Regions from separate parts of the Homo sapiens genome. Here regions 2, 3 and 4 are each reported to be linked to region 1. Evidence: microRNA targets listed by miRTarBase, many of them from high-throughput screens and not tested one by one. Region 1 holds a microRNA gene; each other region holds the end of a gene's coding sequence.
The links. The annotated mature microRNA hsa-miR-297 reads AUGUAUGUGUGCAUGUGCAUG and lies in region 1 at 1,519-1,539, opposite strand. An mRNA with a match to its seed (bases 2 to 7 or 8) in the 3' UTR can be bound and repressed. Matches are read on the target gene's strand: a 7mer-m8 pairs with bases 2 to 8, a 7mer-A1 pairs with bases 2 to 7 and ends in A, and an 8mer does both.

Region 1 (5,152 bases):
AAGTTGTTATAAGGATGGAATGTGTTATTATTATAAAGAGCTTAGAATAGTTCCTGGCAGAGAGTGATTTTTATTTAAGGGTTAGATATATAGTTAGTATAATCTTTTGGCTACTTTTATTATCAATTGATTATGAGATTGATCAGAAAAGACATTTGGAGATAGAGTGGGGCTGGCAAATGTGATCCCTTTTCCCCTTTTAGACTCTAATTTCTCTTTGCCCCTCTTCTTTTTAATCCTTCAATCTCTCTCTCAGACCTATGACTTGATGCCTGTAGACCCTAGGTAGTGAGATCTGTGTGCCTCTGAGGACTATGATGCAGCACTCCAACAGAAATAGCAGAATTCTGAATAAGTATTCAGTCAGCACGTTACTGTACTAAATGCTTTAGGCAACTGTTACACAATGGCAAGCATTTGTGTATCTAAACATTTCTAAACATATAAAAGGTAAAATATGGTATAAAAGACAAAAAATGGTAAACCTGTATAGGGCACTTACCATGCATGGAGCTTGTAGGACTGGAAGTTGCTCTGGGTGAATCAGTGAGTGAGTGGTGAGTGAAGGTGAAGGCCTAGGACATTACTGTCCACTACTGTGGATTTTATAAACACAGTGAACTAGGCTACACTAAATTAAAAAAAAATCTTCTTTCTTAAATAATAAATTAACTTTAGCTTACCATGGCTTTTTTACTTTATAAACTTGTATTTTTTTACTTTTTGACTCTTTCTGTAATAACATTTAGTTTAAAATATAAACACATTGTATCGCTGTACAAAAATGTTTTCTTTCTTTATATTCTTATTCTATAAGCTTTTTTCTATTTCAAAGATCATATATATATATATATATTTTACTTTTTCAACTTTCTTGTTAAAAACTAAGACAGAAACATACACATAGCCTAGGCCTACACAGGGTCAGGATCATCAGTATCACTGCCTTCCATCTCCACCTCTTGTCCCAGTAGAAGCTCTATTAAGAGTGGAAAACTGGAAATAGTAACACAAATGGAGCTGTAATCTGCTATAACAATGCCTTCTTCTGGATACCTCCTGAAGGACCTGCCTGAGGCTGTTTTATAGTTAACTTTTTTTTTATAAGTTGAGGCAGTATACCCTAAAATAGCAATAAAAGTTTACTATAGTAAATATATAAGCCAGTAACATATTCGTCATTATCAAGTGTTATGTATTGTGGATAATTGTATGTGCTGTAATATTATATGACTGGCAGCACTGTAGGTTTATTTACACCAACATCACCAAAAACGCATGAGTAATGCATTTGCTATTACATTATGATGGCTACGACGCCATTAGGTGATAGGAATTTTTCAGCTCCATTTTCTTCTTATGGGACAACTGTCACATTTGTGGTCTGTCGTTGACTGGAACTTTTTCGTGTGGTTCATGACTATATGATCAATGCAGAAGTTATACCATAGATTAAAAATAGAAATGAAATCTCCTTGATATATGAGTACATAATACATATATATGTATATACACATACATGCACATGCACACATACATACATATGTTCATAAAGTATGTAGAAAGAGATCTTGAGTTGGAAATAAGCCATCGTTCAGGCAGGTGGCCATGGGTTAAAGCTGTGAATTTACAAAATGGGGAAAAGGGAATCAGAGTAAAAAGCTATGCTATTACTCCATATTTAATTTTAATTGTGATGGGTATAGAAGCCCTTTGGCATGAAAGGGAAAATGGTATATATTTTAAATTTTCATGCCAATGATAAATATTTCACATGCATTAAAACCTGTAAAATATATTGTATTTACAGGAGCAAGTCACATTCTAGGGGGAAATTGCCTTTCCTGCAGTTGTATTTTTACATTACCCCAAATACCTGTGAGAACCAATTAGTCTCCACAACTTGCCATGTTCCTGTTAAGTGAACCTGGCACAGGAACATCCAGCTAATCCTTTGGCAGCCTTGTGTGAAGTACTTAGGAAGCCTGGTGTGTCCTTCCTCCAACCTTACAGCATGGGAGCCAACTCTGGCCACTGTTGGCCTGTTATTGTGCAGTGGTGAATTTCTGACACAAAATGAGTTGTGGAGATTACTGAGGAAGGAACGCAAAGTGATTATGTGGTCTCTCTTTTGGGCCTGATCTTTAGACCTTCAGAAAAATTGGCCTCAACCTTACAAAGATATGGACAAGGAAGCCATTCCAAACACGAAGTACTCCATTGTATAAAGTACAAAAATGAGTAATACCATCATTAAGAATAAAATATTCTCAAACAAGAGCCTACTGATTAAGAATGGAAAACTGGGCTGGGCGCAGTGGCTCATGCCTGTAATCCCAGCACTTTGGGAGTCTGAGGTGGGTGGACTGCTTGAGGTCAGGAGTTCAAGAGCAGCCTGATCAACATGGTGAACCCCCGTCTCCACTAAAAATACAAAAATTAGCTGGGCATGGTGGTGGGTGCCTGTAATCCCAGCTACTCTGGAGGCTGAGGCAGGAGAATCACTTAAACCCGGGAGGCAGAGGTTGCAGTGAGCCCCTATCGCACCATTGCACTCCAGGCTGGGCGACAGAGCAAGACTCTGTTTCAAAAAAAAAAAAAAAAAGGGAAAACTGGAAACAAACTGCCTGGCCTGAATCTTGGTTTCTCAGCTTACTAGCTGTGTGACTGGGCAAGTTATGTAACATCTCTGTTCCTTAGTTTCCTTATCTGGAAAATATACCTACCAGATGAGGTTGTTGTGGGATTAGACTAAGATAATGTTGGTCATGCATGTAAGCAGAGCCTGTCACTTACGTAAGTATCAACCAAAAACCTTTCCAAGCAAACAAACAAGGAAACAAAACTTCTGTACAAATCTTATTTTAAAAAGTTATAAAGTTATAGTTATTCTTAATTAATGGTTGAATGAGTAGAATTCAGATCTGTTATTATTTTTAAAGAATGTAGACTTGAAGTGTAGAAAAGGATTATTTTAAAATATAACTTTTCAGTTTTGGTGTTCTGTTTCACAGTAGAGTGACTACAGCAAATGCCAATGTATTGTATATTTCAAGACAGCTAGAAGAGAAGATTTTGAATGTTGCCACCACAAAGAAATGCTAAGTAGTTAAAGTGATAGCTATAATTACTCCAATTTGACCATTATACTATAGATACATGTATTGAAACATTATACCCAATAAATATGTACAGTTATTATATGCCATTATAAATAAAAATAAGTGAAGAGTTCAAAAAAAACCTTTTCAAAGCTTTGAAAATTTTTTCTGAAAGATCGAGTTGATCATTATTTTGAAGAGAAGAAAATGTTTAACATTTTACTCAGTAATTTTATGGACAGTAAACCAAATGGGCAGTCCTTTGGTTCACTTCTCTCTGTGCCCAGAAATACCTGGGTTGCCTTCATATGGCCTCAGGTTGTAGAGTTGTGAGGCACCTGACTGGGGTTGCATGGGATGTGGCAATCCTTATATTTAATATTTCATATTTTTAAGAGAATGAGAGTGGTGCAGGCGGGGTAAAGGGTTCTCTCAAGAAGGATGGGGCAAATACAACTGCTTCTGTCCTAACTGGGAGGAAAAGCAGACTGACAAAGTCAGAAAGCTTTGAGTTTCAGGTCAGCCTTCCCACTGACTCCCATTCAAACCTTGATCAAGTAATTTGACATTTCCTACCTCAGTTTCCTCATCTGTAAAATGGTGATAATAATAGCACTCACCTCAGAAGGCTGTTGTGAGGGTTAAAGAAGATAATGAATGTACAGAACTCAGCATACTGCTTGGCTCATATGGAAGCCCTTAATACATGTTAGCTAATAAATCCTACCTTTGCTCCTTGCTTCAGTGCTGGAAGTGTAGAAGCTGACAACTGGTCCCTTCTTTATTTAGGTTCATCCCTAAATAAAGGAAAAACACCATGTTGAGTAAATTTGGAAGAGACGGTATTCCCTGAGACTAGCAGAAGTCATAGCTATTAAATGTGTAAAACTGACTTTGTTGCATAGAAATCCTTTGATAAGTAACAGATGAAACTGTGATAAATGATATATTAATAAGTAAAAATTCACTTTTATTAGGCTTGCCAGATAAAATACAAGACACTGAGTTATATTTAACTTTTGGATAAGCAATAGCTAATTTTTTTGTTGTAAGTACATCCCAAATGTTGCATGGGATACATGTATGCTAAAATTTATTCATTTTTATCTGAACTTCAGATTTAACTGGGGATCCTATATTTTTATTTGCTAAATTTGGAAACTATAACCTTTAAATATCACTCTTTTCTGATCTGGTATTTTAGTTTTATACTTTTCCTCATAGATTTTTTTTTTCTCATAACTGGTAATTTATCAACATTTCCTGTCACAATAAAGCTAAATTGTACATAAAATATTAACATAACTTGGAACTTTATGAGATGAGAAAATTTATGAGATGTAAATTAAAAGCAACATTAAATAAACTCAAGGATTAATTATATGCATAATAACATACCTTTTCATATTTCTGGTAAACTTGATACAAATCTGATCATAATAGTACAAGCAGTCAGTAATAAACATAAGGAATAAATAAAAATGTAGAAGAAACATGAACTGTTGCTACACATGATAGTTTTGACAGATTAAATGCACAAAACCCCAAAATATAAATTTTTCTAGTTTCACGTTTTCTCTTAGTGTTATTTATATCTTTATTTCTAAAGGTATACTTGTAATATACTTATTAACATTAGTCTATTTAAGAATCTCTATTATTATTTTTGACTTTCAAATAGTATCTGAAATTTACCCTGAGATTTATCTGAGATTTACAAGCAAATCTCAAGGTTAAAAAAAATCATTGAGTTAGGCAGTTTTAGAATTGTTATTTTGAAATCAACATGTTATAATGTTTTAAAGTAGGATATATGTATATACAAACTTACATAAACCTGTATGTCTTCATTTTTATTTGTAAAATCTTTATGATTTTACAGCTTTAAAAGCAATAAAGTACTAATATGATGTATTAATATATTCCCTTGAAAATACAGATTAATCAGGATTCCTGTTCTTAGATGGTTAAATCTTAAGTTTATCTGAAACAAAAGTTTTGAGTCTACAGAAACTTATTGAAAATAGATAATTAGATGTTCAAAAAGTTAT
Region 2 (5,152 bases), not on the chromosome of region 1:
GATTTACCTGCTAATTTAGAGATCCTGGACATATCCAGGAACCAGCTCCTAGCTCCTAATCCTGATGTATTTGTATCACTTAGTGTCTTGGATATAACTCATAACAAGTTCATTTGTGAATGTGAACTTAGCACTTTTATCAATTGGCTTAATCACACCAATGTCACTATAGCTGGGCCTCCTGCAGACATATATTGTGTGTACCCTGACTCGTTCTCTGGGGTTTCCCTCTTCTCTCTTTCCACGGAAGGTTGTGATGAAGAGGAAGTCTTAAAGTCCCTAAAGTTCTCCCTTTTCATTGTATGCACTGTCACTCTGACTCTGTTCCTCATGACCATCCTCACAGTCACAAAGTTCCGGGGCTTCTGTTTTATCTGTTATAAGACAGCCCAGAGACTGGTGTTCAAGGACCATCCCCAGGGCACAGAACCTGATATGTACAAATATGATGCCTATTTGTGCTTCAGCAGCAAAGACTTCACATGGGTGCAGAATGCTTTGCTCAAACACCTGGACACTCAATACAGTGACCAAAACAGATTCAACCTGTGCTTTGAAGAAAGAGACTTTGTCCCAGGAGAAAACCGCATTGCCAATATCCAGGATGCCATCTGGAACAGTAGAAAGATCGTTTGTCTTGTGAGCAGACACTTCCTTAGAGATGGCTGGTGCCTTGAAGCCTTCAGTTATGCCCAGGGCAGGTGCTTATCTGACCTTAACAGTGCTCTCATCATGGTGGTGGTTGGGTCCTTGTCCCAGTACCAGTTGATGAAACATCAATCCATCAGAGGCTTTGTACAGAAACAGCAGTATTTGAGGTGGCCTGAGGATCTCCAGGATGTTGGCTGGTTTCTTCATAAACTCTCTCAACAGATACTAAAGAAAGAAAAAGAAAAGAAGAAAGACAATAACATTCCGTTGCAAACTGTAGCAACCATCTCCTAATCAAAGGAGCAATTTCCAACTTATCTCAAGCCACAAATAACTCTTCACTTTGTATTTGCACCAAGTTATCATTTTGGGGTCCTCTCTGGAGGTTTTTTTTTTCTTTTTGCTACTATGAAAACAACATAAATCTCTCAATTTTCGTATCAACACCATGTTCTGTCTCACTAACCTCCAAATGGAAAATAATAGATCTAGAAAATTGCAACTGCCCTTAGAGGTTTCCAGTCTCCATTGATTTTCTTTCAGATCCAATAATACCGTTCTGTCCTGCTGTGTTGATTATGGAATGTATCCTAATCATGGGAAGGGCACCTTGGGAGAAGTTGCAGATGGCTGACGTGCTTTCTCTAGCATTCAGCTAAAAAATGGGATGGTCCATGATTCTGCGTTCTCTGTGTTCTGCAAAACAACATTAAGTAGAAAACAAACAGAAGCAGAGGCACATTTCCTTCTTTTGCCACAGAAACAATGCCACTGTTGAGTGCAAGTCACACTTTGTCTCATAGATAAGAGGTGGCCCCAAAGAAGCTGGGATGAATGAGTCACTACCTGTCTTGTGACTGTACTGCACTTCATGTTCTTACCTTCGGCTTCTCCAGGTCTCGCCCTAGTGAGCCAAGAACTTTCTCTCACATGCTGCCTTTATTTAAGCCTGGCCTTCAAGACCTTCCATGATTTATCACCAACCTACCTTTTCAGCTTTGTTTCCTAGCACACCTCATTGATCAGCTGCTCAGGCTGTTGCATGAAGAACATGGACTTTGCACACAGATCCTGGGTTGAGTTCTGAGTCAGCTGTGTATTAGCCATGTAACCTTGGCCTTGGTATGCCCTTGCTGGACCTACATTTTCTCACGTAACAGCATCTATGTCATAGAATTCCTGTGAAAATTAAATTGGCCAAGGATGTCAGGGCTTCTCAGATCTTTTCCTTCGTTGCCCTAATGACCACAAGAGAACACATACACTGAAGGCCTCCTGGGGGGCAGTTGCAATTTCACTGAAGTTGTATTTTTTTATCTTAAATGAAATCTATGTGTATTTTCCATTCTGTTCTTTTTTTCATGTTTATTAATATAGAAATGTGTTTTTGCAAAAGGATTAAGAATACTTAAAACAAGGAAACTGTGCCAAAATTACCCCATAGCTTCACACACTGCCTCCTCCAAGTCCAGCGTAACTCCAGGTCAGCTCCTGCAGTTTGAGGGGTACACATGGGTCTGGGACTCAGCTCTCCAAACTGTCACCTTCTTCCCCTCACTGGGCCCCTCAATCCTGACTCCTCCAACACACACACGCGCGCACACACACACACACACACACATACACGCTATTCTCATCCCAACTTCTTTTGGCCACTTCTAATCAATGAGACCGAGCTTTCCCTGCACCCAGCGATGGCATTATTTTCACGCACACCATGCAGTCCCCACTGTACCTCTTTCCTCTGGATTCTTCTCCCATCTCTGCACATCCATCCTACGTTTTCTTCGTTTTCTTCAAAATCCAGCCCATGAAGCTCCCTGGGATCCCTAACCCAAAGTCCTCTCTCCCTTTTGTGAAAACTCTTGACACTTTATCTGGTCTTTTAAAAGTAGCACTTACTACTACTTCCTCTATCCTTTTTTCTGAGCCTGCCCGGCTGCCCGCCTCTCTGGAAGATAAGTTCCCTGAGGAAAGACCTTGTCTTCTGTGTCCTGCCCTCACTGGCTGTAGCAGATCACTTATGGTTTGGGGACCATTCAAGGGTTTCCCACTTACACATCTGCCCATGCTTCTTCCTCCCCATGGAATTTCTTCTCCCCATCCTACCACTCGTCTGCCTGATGAATTTCCTTGTTTAGCAAGACTGCCCATCCCTCATGACCCCAGTGACAGATTTTCTGTCACTGATACATGACATTGTGTTGCGCCAGTGTGTTTATGTATGTGTATGGACGGCTTAGTTTGTGAGACACTGCAGTCAGGATCTTGTCTTGTTCATCTGTGTATCGCAGGCCCAGTTTGTGCCTGGCCCACAGTATGTGCTTAGTAAATGTCTTGTGGATGAGTGAAGTATACTGGGAAGCCCAGCCTCCCTCATGGCAACACCTGCTGTTATTAGACTTTCCACTGGAGGGGCAGGGAGGATGAGGGCCTGAGAGAGCAAGATATCCATGGAGGTGCTGAGTGGTAAGCTGAAAAGGGCAGGAGACCACAGGCTGTCAGACACCCCTGAACACTATTTCAAATGGCCAGGCATGGCACAGGCCTCCTGGGTAGTGGGACAGTGGCAGCCTGGATTAGCAGCTAGGAACGGGGCTAGAATGGAGAGCTGAGGGGGTGGGGAGGAAAACAGAACCCACATGAATTTGCAGTGAATAAGGTCTCCTGGAACCCTGTGCTAAGAAATACAGTAAAACAGGGCCAGGCACTGGTGGCTCATGCCTGTAATCCCAGCACTTTGGGAGGCTAAGGTGGGCCAATCACTTGAGGTCAGGAGTTTGAGACCAGCCTGCCCAACATGGTGAAACCCCGTTTCTACTAAAAATACAAAAATTAGCTGGGTGTGGTGGTGCACACCTGTAATCCCAGCTACTAGGGAGGCTGAGGCAGGAGAATTCCTCGAACCCAAGAGGCGGAGATTGCAGTGAGCCAAGATGGCACTACTGCACTCCTGGGTGACAGAGCGAGATCCTAACTCAAAAAAAAAAAAAAAGAAGGAAGGAGACAAAACAAAAGTATACTGTGTCAGTAACAGGTATAACCGCAAATCAGGAAGACTGTGGAAAGACCACTCTGCTCGGTTTCATGCCCTCCTGTCCCACCTGCTGCTCAGCCATGGTTTTCCCCCAGCTCTAGGGGGTGGGAGGGGCACCCAGGACACTGAAGAAATCTCCTGGTCAGAACACCTTGTATGAACAGGACTCCTAGGGAAAGGGGTTTCCTAGTCCGGCTAGGGGTTGGAGGTAGTGCTACACCAGGGACCTCCCTTGGTTTGGGTGACCATCGCTATGACTCTGTTTTCCAAACCAAACCTGGGACATGTAAAATGACAAGTGCAGGTGTCTTTACAGGAAGAACAAGCTGAAACACAGATAACTCTCAACATAGGAAAGGAGTCTATCCCACAGCCTTTTCTAATCTTCTTATTTAAAAACACGAATTACAGGTAATTTTCCTAATGAAACACATTTAAAAGGCATCTTTTGTGGTCTCTGTATAGAGTGTATGGGGGACCTGTTCATGTCTACATCCTAGCCACTGTTAGTTTCAACATACCACTCTATTTCAAAACTTCCCTTTTCTGGCAAAGATCCAAAACTTACTAAAATTCTTTTGTCTTCTTTCCCATGGTCAGGCCCAGCAGTTGGAATTCTTTTTGAGGCCATTTTCCCAAGTCTTTATCACGTCACAAGACTTGCTGTGTACATGGCAAAAGGAAGGCCCAACGGAGCCACATTGGGAAGTGGGCCCTGGGGAGTCTGCTGAGACACTGGTTGCTAAGTGACTGCCCTGTCTTCCATGGCGCAGTGATTCAAAGCCAGGCCTCAGGAAATAGATAAATTCCACATAGCACAGACCTCTGGGGTCACTCCAAAATGGTGAGAAACTACCACAGTTCAATCTCAGAATGGCTAGAGCTTTCTGTAGTTGAAACTGCAACTATTCTGGAAAGATCTAGAATATTGACTAGAGCTGCTGAAAACTTCAAAGAGAATCCCACTCATGCCAAATACAACTGACTCTGAAAATCCCTTGCCAACCACGTGCACTTGCAGTGAAGAATGTTTTAGAGAGTCTTGATATTATGTAAAGCAAATGCGGTTTGAAGTTTTAAATCATGAAAGAACCACGTTAAGAGGACAAGAGACTGTGGAGTAAAAGTTTAAGATAGTTAAATGCTCATGTACCACAATGTAAAATTGATTACAAAAAAGTCTACAATATTAAATCAAGAAATAGTGTTCCAAATATATATATTTAGAAGTATGAAAATGCCAGAAGAAAGAACCATACAAATTAATGATGATTGCCTGAGGAAGTTCTGCCCAGTTCTTCCATTGGGAGCATCTAGAAAAGCTGGAGAAACTATTTTTTTAGAATCTATTTAAAGACACGGGAAAGTTGCAAGGTAGTAAATAGGGCCAAGAGGCAAGAGAAGAAGGAAATCGAGAAAGCTGACTACAATGCAATTAAGACCATCTATTACCAAAAAAAGACT
Region 3 (5,152 bases), not on the chromosome of region 1:
CCATCTCTACAAAAAATTTTAAAATTAGTCGGGCATGGTGGCACGTACCTGTAGTCCCAGCTACTAGGGAGGCTGAGGTGGGAGGATTGCTTGGGCCTGGGAGGTCAAGGCTGCAGTGAGCTCTAACGGTGCCACTGTACTCTAGCCTGGATGACAGAGTGAGACCCTGTCTCAAAATAAATAAATAAATAAATAAATAAAAAATAACAACTGGGTTGGGTTGTTGGCTGGCTTCGCTCCACCAAGGATAGCCAGGCATTTTTTTTCCCCTCTCCAAATGGAGGGTTCCCAGATAATCTCTAAAAAGTTCAAGCAAGAGCTAGAAAAAGTTAGGCGGGTGAGTTATGTCACATCCAGAGTACCTACTGAGTTCTCCCCTCACCCCACCTCTCTCTTCCAGGCACAGACCCCAGTTCAGTTGTCTCTGTAGGCGGAGGCTCAAAGACTGTTCGCGCAGCCACACAGGTGTGATCAGAGCCAGTGGTCTGCCCTGCACAGGGCGTTTTGGGCCAGAACTTCCTATTTCACTCCAGCAGCAGCCAGGGCCTGCTATGACTGAGGGTTGGACCCTGAAAGTGGGACTTTCTGTCTCCCTCTCTTGCTGCAGAAGAAGAGTCTTCCTGTATTTGTGCAAGTAAGGAGATGTGACTTCTTGGCTGGGAAACTCTTGCTGATCTAACTGTGTGGTTTGCACAACCTCCAAGCCTCTGCAGCAGACAGGCAGGGCTTGCTGTGTTGCTCTGAGCTAGAGAGGGAGCTTGGCCATGTTCTCTGAAAAGGTCCCCTTACATTCACTTTGCCACCTGTAGGCCACACCCCATCCAGCTCCCAGCATCTTCATCTTAAAACAGATCAGATCATGTCACTCTTCTCTTTAAACGCTTCTACGGCCTGTGCATTTCCCTTCAGATATTATCCAAACTCATCGTCGTGACCTTCAAAACCTTGTGGTCTGGCCTCTGTTGGCCTCCCTGACCTCCCCTCCCAATTCTTTCTCTGCCCCCGGACTCCAGTATCACAGTCTGTCTCTCAGCCACAATTTATTTTGCCCCTAGAGTTTGCTGTGCTTATAACACTTCTTTTTCCCATATGTCATTCATTTCTCAAGTCTAAGAGTAGCAGTTACCATCTTAGACGACCGTTCCCTTACCCCTCCCTTAGTCTTGGGTTAAGTCCCAGAATCCTTGAATTTGCCGTTCCTGATACATAAATATGTAATTTCTTGTGTGGCCTGAGACTCTCTCTCTAAACTAAGGGCTTTACAAAAGCAGAGACCACATCATTAACTCAGCACTTAACCCAGAGCCTCACACACAGCAGGCAATCAATAAATATTTGTTGACTGATCAAATGTTTTGGTGCCAGTGAAGAGTTGGGCTTGCTGCTGCTGTCTTCAGCGTAAGTCTTGCTTTTTCAGCTGGGTTTCTAATTGAGAATTTAGAGAGTGCATTGGTGAGGATTCTTTTGACTGCAAGTAACAAAATAAAATGGTGGCAAGAACTATGGAGGCGGCTGGTTTCAGGCTGGCTCAGCAGCTCAGTAACGCCATTAAAGACATGGGCCCTTTGCATCCATCTGCTCTGCCACCCTCAGTGGGTTGGCACATTGACTCTAAGCATGTTGCTTCACGTAGCAAGATGGTTGCTGCAGCTCCAGTCATCACATCTTCACACAACTGTATCCAAAGATAAAAGGAAGGGGGCAGAACTTCCTCCCTATACATCTTCCCCACCCTCTACCTCCCTCTATCACTGCCTTCTTCCCTCTCATGGGGTGGGAGGGAAGCTTTCCTGGAAACCTACAAGCAAATTTCCATTTATGTCTCTTTGGCCCAAACTGGCCACATAGCTGCAAAGGAGGCTAGGAAACCAGATATCTAGCCTGTATCATAACACGTGGATCTGCCAGCGAAGAAGAAAGGGGAACCAAACAACTCAAATGTGGGCAACCAGCATCTGTCTCAGGGAAGGAAAGCATGTGAGAGAATTTCTGGTTAATGATTGGGGGTAGAAAAGGCCATTGGAAAATAGAACCCCTGGATCCTTTTGGAAAGGTGAGGGTTGGGGTTCTGGGCCTTCTATGTCTCTTCTGTATCTATTATGGTTTTCATTCTCTTTTTTATTACTAGAGATAGAAAATCCAATGCAAATTGGTTTAAATATACAGGGGACTTTATTGCTTATATAAGTGAAAATGGGCATCAGTTAAGTTTTGATCCAGCTGCTCAAATGATATATAATCATGGACTCAGTTTCTCTAAGGTTTCCACTCTGCCCTTCACAGTGTTCCTATCCTTCTCAGGCTCCATATGCTGTCCTCCCCACCATTGCTATCCCCACAGAGCCAAGATCTCTCCATGTGATGGAGAAAAGCAACCCTACAGATGTTGACTTCACATCACGGAGCCACAATATCCAGCAGAAAAGCATCTCTTCTTGGGAATCCATTCACTTTCTCATTAGCCTTACTGGGTCATGTGCCCATCTCTGAGCCAATCACGGTGGGAAATGGGCTATGCTGGGTGTCTTCGGCCAATCACAGGGCATCTCTGTAATGAGTCCATTCCAAGTCTACCAGTGAGAAAGTAGGCGGTAGGAATGATGCTGGAGAGGCACCACCAATTGACTGCTACCCTTTGCCCTTCATTAACTCTAATCCTTAATGACATTGACACCTGCAGGCAGACTTTGGAAAAAGGCGTTTATTGGTGTGGTGGTCTCAACACTCCCCATGAATTGGAACACATGGCCCCCAGGGCCCCCCACCCCCTCCCTAGCATCCCTCCCCTGTCCCACCCCATCCCCTGGACCCTGGGAATGGAAGACAATGTGGGATGGGGCCCATGCCCCCGTCTGAGGTACAGTCACTGCGCCTTGCCCTCTCCTTTTCTCCACCAGACTCTGGGTGGTGTGGTTTGGGGTGGGTGTTTATATAGAGGGTCTCCTGGGAGTCGGAGTTGGTGACATGGCATCTTTGTCTGGGCTCAGGATGTCTGTGTGATGCCTCTCTGTCCCCCACTTTGTGTGGTGTGGTGTACCAGGGTGGAGTGTTCCTACAGTCAGAGCTGAGGCTGCGGCCTCTCAGCGTCCCTTCCTGACACCAGATGCCTACCCAGGGGGAAATACAGCTAGTCACCAGCTACCGGACAGCTGGAGCCAGGGGGCTATTGCTGGTCACAGTCGCTGGTGTGTGTGTGTGTGTGTGTGTGTGTGTCTGTGTGTGTGTATGTGTGTGTGGTGCGTCTGAGTGTCTGTGAGGGCGGTCAGGTAGCCTTTGGGAGGTACAGTTGGTGGAGAGGCCAGGAAGTGATAGACCAGCAAGCTCACACCTGTGGGCCAGCTGCAAAGGCCCCAAGGGCAGCTGGCTGGTGCCGCAGGTGGGGAAATCAAGGCCAAGGGGAGTGGTGGCAAGGGTAGGGCAAAGCACTGAAACAGACAGGTGACTCCTGCCACCAGTCTGACAGTTGGATGGAAGCACCGATTGGCCCAGGAGGGGGCCAGAAAATCCAGGGTGTGGAGGGACAGGAAAAGTGGGAAGGTCTCAGGCCACTGAGCCAGCGATGGGGCCTCTGGCTACAGGAAGCTGGTGGTTGACAGCAGGGAAGCCCAGAGCCTAGATGGAGGTCCCCCACTTACTCACAAAGGCTGAATGACAGCTTGACAGGTGAGTGCGATGCCCCTCCCCACTCCCAACCTGCCAGGAGTTGCCCTTTCGACAGGGGGAGGGGTAGTGTGCGTGCATATATTGGGGAAGCAGGGAGCCTGGTAAGCCTCTCTTCACAGCTTCCACTGCAGAGCCTCATACCTACCTCCAGCCAGAGGTGAGAGGCAATAGGGTTGGGGACAGTGGACATGGGGGTTTTGGGGGCGGGAGGACGGCTGAGTCCCTTCCCCCAGCCCACCCCCCCACACACACACAAACAGAGACACAGACACCTACACATGCATGCAGGCTCACACTCACACACCCACACCCACACAAGCCAGTTGACAGCCTGAGCTAAGAGAGAGGGGTATGGGGTGGCGGGAGTGGGTCACAATCGGAAACGTGAACGGGTGGCGAGAATGGCTGTAGAAAGATGCATAATTTTGCGTTATCCCTCACAGTGATGGGTTCTCTGAAGATCTTTCTTCCTCTGCCTCCTCCTCTTCTCCTCTCTCTTCTTCCTTGGTGGCCGAGAGCTCTTCTGCCCCCACGAGACCCACGGCTCTTGCTCCCCCGTTTCTCTCACTCTTGGCCTGAGGCCCCCTGCAGGGGGAGGTGAGCTCCACTGGGTTGCGCCTACATTCTCCACCACAGCCAGCCCAGGGCGGAGAGGAGGGCCAGGAGCCCTGGGGGCCTCGGGGCTGAGTTCTCCAGGGATCCTGGGCCTGGGGGAAGAGAAGGGGTCATGGAGGGAGGCCTGAGAGTGGGGAACCCCATGTGTGTCTCTCCAGGGGCCCCATCTCTTCTGAGCCCACTCTTTAGCGTCCTTTCTGGATCTCTCATTGGGTGTGCCTGCTTTTCTGACTCTGTTTCTTTTTTTTTTTTTTTTTCTTTTTTTGAGACGGAGTCTCGCTCTGTCACCCAGGCGCAATCTCGGCTCACTGTAACCTCTGCCTCCCAGGTTCAAGCAATCCTCTTGCCTCAGCATCCTGAATAGCTAGGACCACAGGTGCCCATCACTACGCCTGGCTAATTTTTGTATTTTTTTTTTTTTTTGGTAGAGACATAGTTTCACCATGTTGGACAGGCTGGTGTCAAATTCCTGACTTCAGGTGATCAGCCCGCCTCGGCCTCCCAAAGTGCTGGGATTTACAGGCGTGAGCCACCACGCCCGGCCTCCAAAATTATTTTTTGTTTATGTATGTGTTTGCTTATTTACCTACATGACCACTTGTTTATTGCTTTTCTACTCCTACTAGACTATAAGCTCTGCGAATCCCCAAACCTTGTTTCTTTTGTGCACAGCTGCGTCCCCCACGACAAACCCTTAGCTGGCACTCAATGAATATTGATTGCGTGGATCGGTTTCTTACTCGCATTGCTTTTCAGTCTCAGCGTCCATCTCCTAAGTTCAGGGCCAGCCTGAAGGGCGGTCCCGGCGTCTCCACTTCCCTAGCCCCGCCCCCGGCCCCGCCCACCTTCCCGGCCCCGCCCCGCCCGAAGACGC
Region 4 (5,152 bases), not on the chromosome of region 1:
TCCATCTCCAAAAAAAAAAAAAAAAAAAAAAAAAAAAAGCACATTTACAAAAGTGTAGGAAATAGGCCGGGCGCATTGGCTCACATCTGTAGCACTTTGGGAGGCTGAGGTAGGTGGATCACCTGAGGTCAGGAGTTCAAGACCAGCCTGCCCAACATGGTGAAACTCCGTCTCCTACTAAAAATACAAAAATTAGCTGGTCATGGTGGCGCACGCCTGTAATCCCAGCTATTCGGGAGGCTGAGGTGGGAGAATTGCTTGAACCTGGGAGATGGAGGTTGTAGTGAGCCGAGATTTTGCCACTGCACTCCAGCCTGGGCAACAGAGTGAGACTTCATCTCAAAAGAAACAAAAAAAGAAAAGAAATGGAAAGGAACTACACCTGAAACTTGTAATATTTTGAAGGTAGCTCTGCCTTTGAGGGCCTAATTTTCCCCAGGCTATATTCCCCTTTCTTTGAAAAGCACCCACATGTATTTAACAGTAAACTGTGCATACAGTTTCAGAGGTTCAGGAGCCCCATAACCTATCTTGGATCTCAGGTTACACAGGTTAAGAATTCTTATTCATGCCAAAATATACAATCCAAAGGTAGAATTTTAGGTTATTATTTTAATCTTTGTGGTATTCTGTTTTTCAAACTTTCTAAAATTAGTATTATTTCTGTAACTAGGAAAATACATTTTAAAGAGTTACCAGGAAGAAAAGGAAGAAAGAAAGAGGAAGGAAGGAAGGAAGGAAGGAGGGAGGGAGGGGAGAGAGGGAGAGAAAAAAGAAAGAGTGACAGAAAGAGAAGAAGGAAGGAGGGAGGGAGGGGAGAGAGGGAGAGCAAAAAGAAAGAGAGAAAGAGAAGGAAGGAGGGAGGGAGGGGAGACACGGAGAGCAAAAAGAAAGAGAGAAAGAGAAGAAGGAAGGAGGGAGGGAGGGGAGAGAGGGAGAGAAAAAGAAAGAGTGAGAGAGAGAAAGAGAAGAAGGAAGGAAGGGAGAAAGAAAGGGAAGGGAAGGGAAAGGGATGGGAAAGGGAAGGGAAAGGGAGAGAAAGTAAGGAAAATGAATTAGTTTTGTGTTCCCCAAGTTAATCTTTGCTGAGTGGCTGAGATGTTGGTTGAAAGGATGGGCAAGAACAGAGTAGGGTGACAGTCATTGGTCACCTACAACTTTAGTCTAAGACAAAGGGTTGAAAGAGACCATCTTGGCCAGGCGTGGTGTCTCATGTCTGTAATCCCAGCACTTTGGGAGGCCCAGGCAGGCGGATCACCTGAGGTCGGGAGTTTGAGACCACCCTGACCAACATGGAGAAACCCCATCTCTACTAAAAATACAAAATTAGCCTGGTGTGGTGGTGCATGTCTGTAATCCTGGCTACTCGGGAAGCTGAGTCGGGAGAATCTCCTGAACCTGGGAGGCGGAGGTTGCAGTGAGCTGAGATCACACCATTGCACTCTAGCCTGGGCAACGAGAGCAAAACTCCATCTCAAAAAAAAAGAAAAAGACCATCTCATTCGTACATGTTTTTCTACATTTCTCCTCTATTTCAACAGTTTTGCTTTTAAAATATGTATTTTTGCAGCCACAATCGGGAGATGCCTTCTGGATATCATCCTTTGACCATTAATTTTAATTTTGAATTGATTCAAAGTTTTCTCATTCATCCAATCTTTCCTCATATTCCCTTGTTTTTATGGATAAGCTTCCAATATTTCTGCCTAAACTTGTTCAAGTTCTAAACATGAGTTTCTTCATAGTAGAAAATATGGCTTTGTGGTGGCTGTCTCAACAGTCAAGTGTTTGCTCATTAAAGAAACTTCATTAACACTAGTATTAGGGGCCTATCAGGTATTGATACTGACAAGCTTCCATCACCAAGTTGGACTTGGGTGGTTCAGTCCTGTTCTCATGGCCAATGAGAAGTTAGGGGAGGAGGTGCTCCAATTATTACGTCCAATAGAATTAAGAGAAAGGGAACCAGTGGGCACAGGAAGACAGCTGGACCTCTCACTGAGATACTGCAAAGGCTAACAGCCAGTCTAGGAACTTAGTCACAGTGGGCCCTCCTTGAGCCAGTTCCACTGTTCAGAAAGCTATGCCAAGCCCCTAAAAGACCTAAAGGCTGACAAAACATCTGACTTTTCGGTAGAATCCCATCATTAAGTATATGAACAATCCAGTATGGTCATCTTATGTTATGTGTATCTGACTGATAAGGGGGAAAAAAAAAGAAGAGTAATAATCAACTTAGCCTAGAAGGTAAAATATATCAAAACAAGAGTCTATGTAAGAACAAACAGAAATCTTTGGTGTTAAAAGGTTGGAGGCAGCCAGGTGCAGTGGCTCATTCCTGCAAATCCCAGCACTTTGGGAAGCTGAGGCAGGAGGATAGCTTGAGGCCAGGAATTTGAGACCAGCCTGGGCAACACAGCGAAACTTTGTTTCTTCAGTTATTACAGCTATTCCCAAAAACAAAAAGTTTGGAATAGCCGTAATACTCATCTAGGATATTTCTATTATGTAGGAATTAGTATCTATACTTTTCTTATGCCAGCACTTAGCTGCCCCACCAAAAGGTCTTTCACTGACACAATAAAGAGGCAGGATTTGAATTCAGACAGATCTGGCTCTTAAATACTAGTCCACTTCACTGCACCATGCTACCTCCCACAACTAGGATGGGAAAAGACATTTACGATTGTGAAAAGCCTGGAACGCACGAACTGATCAGTTTAAGAGGGTTCGATGCATACACCTCCTACACAGTGTTATGAAACTGTCCCAAATATTTAGGAGGAACTGAGCGTTCAGACACTAGAATTAGCTTTCAAACTATGCCAACATGTCATTTAACATGCAAGTGCTCAAAATTAAATTGCACTTCTGCCCTCAAAAAACCCTAGTTGATAGCTTGGGTGTTTCTTATCATTTTTATTAGCTGGGGTTATGAAACTTAAATGGGTGATGTTGCTAAAACACTTTTCTCTAACACTTTCCCATGGGGAGTTAGAGGGAGGCTGCATGATTTGGCCGGGTTTTGTTCATCACAAATTAGGTCAACAGCCCAATCCCAAAAGAAAGCACCATTAGTGAAATGACACGTTTCAAGGGCTTTCCAAAATCAGTCCACTGGGTTTTGGCAAGCTCCAGCAAGGGTGGAGAGGGGTAAGGAGCAGCCAGGCCTTAATGGCCTTCTGAACTTGGGTCCTGTATCTGACAAGGTTTCCAATGGCTCCTATGAACAAAACTGACTTTGCTCTTACTGCTGTTATGCAATTAAAGCAGCCAAATGCTGAAATAAAAAATCTTAACAATAAGGATTTACAGTAACGAAAAATTACCCCGTTTTTTCTTCAGTGATGATGCAGCCAGATTGATGAGAGAAAAAAAAAATCAACATTAGGAAACAGAATGTTGATTTCCTTTGTTCTAAAAATAATCAAGTAGCCTGATTATTTTTAGCCAAAATGCAATATAGCAATGAAAGAATACTTTGTGAAATGTTTAACACTGACATCTTTTAATGTTACTCTTTTCAGATTATTTCAACAAGCAAAGTAAGTGTCAGCAGTTTTTACTATAATTGCCAAATGGTATTAGGAATATTACCTTTCCTCCCTTGCTTACAACAAAAACAAATACAAAAATTAAAGTTATAGGTAAAGATATATTATCAAAGGGGATTTTTTTTTAGACAAGAGTCTCGCTCTTGTCACCAAGGCTGGAGTGCAGTGGCGCAATCTCAGCTCACTGCAACCTCCGCCTCCGGAGTTCAAGCGATTCTCCTGCCTCAGCCTCCTGAGTAGCTGGGATTACAGGCTCCCACCACCATGCCTGTAATCCCAGCTAATTTTTTGTATTTTTACTAGAGACAGGGTTTCGCCTGGGTGACAGAGCGAGACACCATCTCAAAGAGTAGTGGCTATCAACCTACACTGTACAGGAGCCCTTGGGAATTACATTTTTAAAAAAGACACATGGTGGACCCTCATGCCCCTCATCAACGAAACAGAACTGGGTACTTTCCCAGATGAGGCCCATGTGCAGCCGTGATTTACCTTGGAACCCCATTCGGCCTTGAAGTTTGGGAGGAAAGAATTCCATTTGTAGCTCCAGCAGAGATTTATGATTAAATTTACGGTGTTTAGCCCATCTCCCTGGCCAAGGAGACTTAAGGAGACACTGGCTGAGGGTTTCCAGAAAATGTTATTCATTCTTCTGCAAAAACTGCAGCCAGGACTACCTCTGGTTAATCCCATCAGTTTGGACAGGTTACCTTTCACTAGCAACATTAAAGGCCCCAAATTAGAAAGCAACACATAGGCATGGTGAAGTCAAGAAAAGGGTGGACTTGAATGTTTATTTACAGGATGCTGCAAGATAGGAAATTCCACATAGAAATTAGAAACCTAGTCAGAGGACAAGCTTCATACAGTATGTATGTACAGTTGGAACTGTTCAAGTATAGTTTCAGTGTAAAAAGTGCTACAGTAACAAACCACATTTAAGAAAGAGTTCTTAGTAGAGAAACAATAAGACAAAATACCAAACGTAGTACACAACAAATTTATGTCTCAGCTACATGATCTAAAAGTTAAAGGTCCCAGGAGCCCCATCCTGAACTTGGAAAGTGTAGCCTTCAGAGGTAGTTTCTGGTACAACGTTTTGATCTTCCTCTTCCTGGAAATATATTAAAAAATAAGTATAAAAATGATATAAGTATTCCAAGCAGCAGCCTACCTGAAGTCTGTATTTAATCTCTAGGTCTTGATCTGCATATTACACCTTTAATCCTGTATGATATTATAGTATTTGACATAGAGGAGGGAGGGTCTCTGAAACTTTGCCAATTCATAAATGCTAGCTACTACAGTAACACAAACAGGCCGAGATTTTTTTCTTCCCCAACCGTCACTTTTCAATAGGAAAAGACTGTATTAGGCCCAGAGCATGGTGATGAGTTTGGCCTACTTCTCTATCACCTCCTACAATGACACCCGTTAACTTACCCTCAAGATATTCTAAGATTCTCAAGGTTGTTCATTTGAAACTAATCTGGTGGCTTTTAAAATCTCAGTTTAAAAAGATTTTATTACCATCAAGCCAAACTAGAGGGGCAAATAAGTACATTATGTCCCATGCACACTGATATTTTACTATATTT

Region 2: miRTarBase lists TLR5 as a target of hsa-miR-297. Seed matches in the 3' UTR shown: 7mer-m8 at 1,909-1,915.
Region 3: miRTarBase lists IGLON5 as a target of hsa-miR-297. Seed matches in the 3' UTR shown: 7mer-m8 at 3,223-3,229.
Region 4: miRTarBase lists KPNA2 as a target of hsa-miR-297. Seed matches in the 3' UTR shown: 7mer-m8 at 4,426-4,432.

Annotation. Positions count from the first base shown.
Region 1 is chr4:110,859,106-110,864,257 of GRCh38, forward strand. MIR297 (microRNA 297) reads right to left here and starts at 1,542; the gene lies at 1,477-1,542.
Region 2 is chr1:223,106,248-223,111,399 of GRCh38, reverse strand. It overlaps TLR5 (toll like receptor 5), which reads left to right. Exons shown (of 6, transcript NM_003268.6): 6 at 1-1,996. The coding sequence ends at 945. Among named protein-coding and RNA genes, the nearest start is that of TLR5, 34 kb to the left of the region's middle.
Region 3 is chr19:51,327,889-51,333,040 of GRCh38, reverse strand. IGLON5 (IgLON family member 5) reads right to left here. Exons shown (of 8, transcript NM_001101372.3): 8 at 2,150-4,370. The coding sequence ends at 4,282. It overlaps VSIG10L (V-set and immunoglobulin domain containing 10 like), which reads left to right. Exons shown (of 10, transcript NM_001163922.3): 10 at 401-1,500. The coding sequence ends at 430. Among named protein-coding and RNA genes, the nearest start is that of VSIG10L-AS1, 9.6 kb to the left of the region's middle. RefSeq lists an enhancer at 3,861-4,783.
Region 4 is chr17:68,046,020-68,051,171 of GRCh38, reverse strand. It overlaps KPNA2 (karyopherin subunit alpha 2), which reads right to left. Exons shown (of 11, transcript NM_002266.4): 11 at 4,318-4,668. The coding sequence ends at 4,576. Among named protein-coding and RNA genes, the nearest start is that of KPNA2, 13 kb to the right of the region's middle. RefSeq lists a silencer at 2,732-2,932.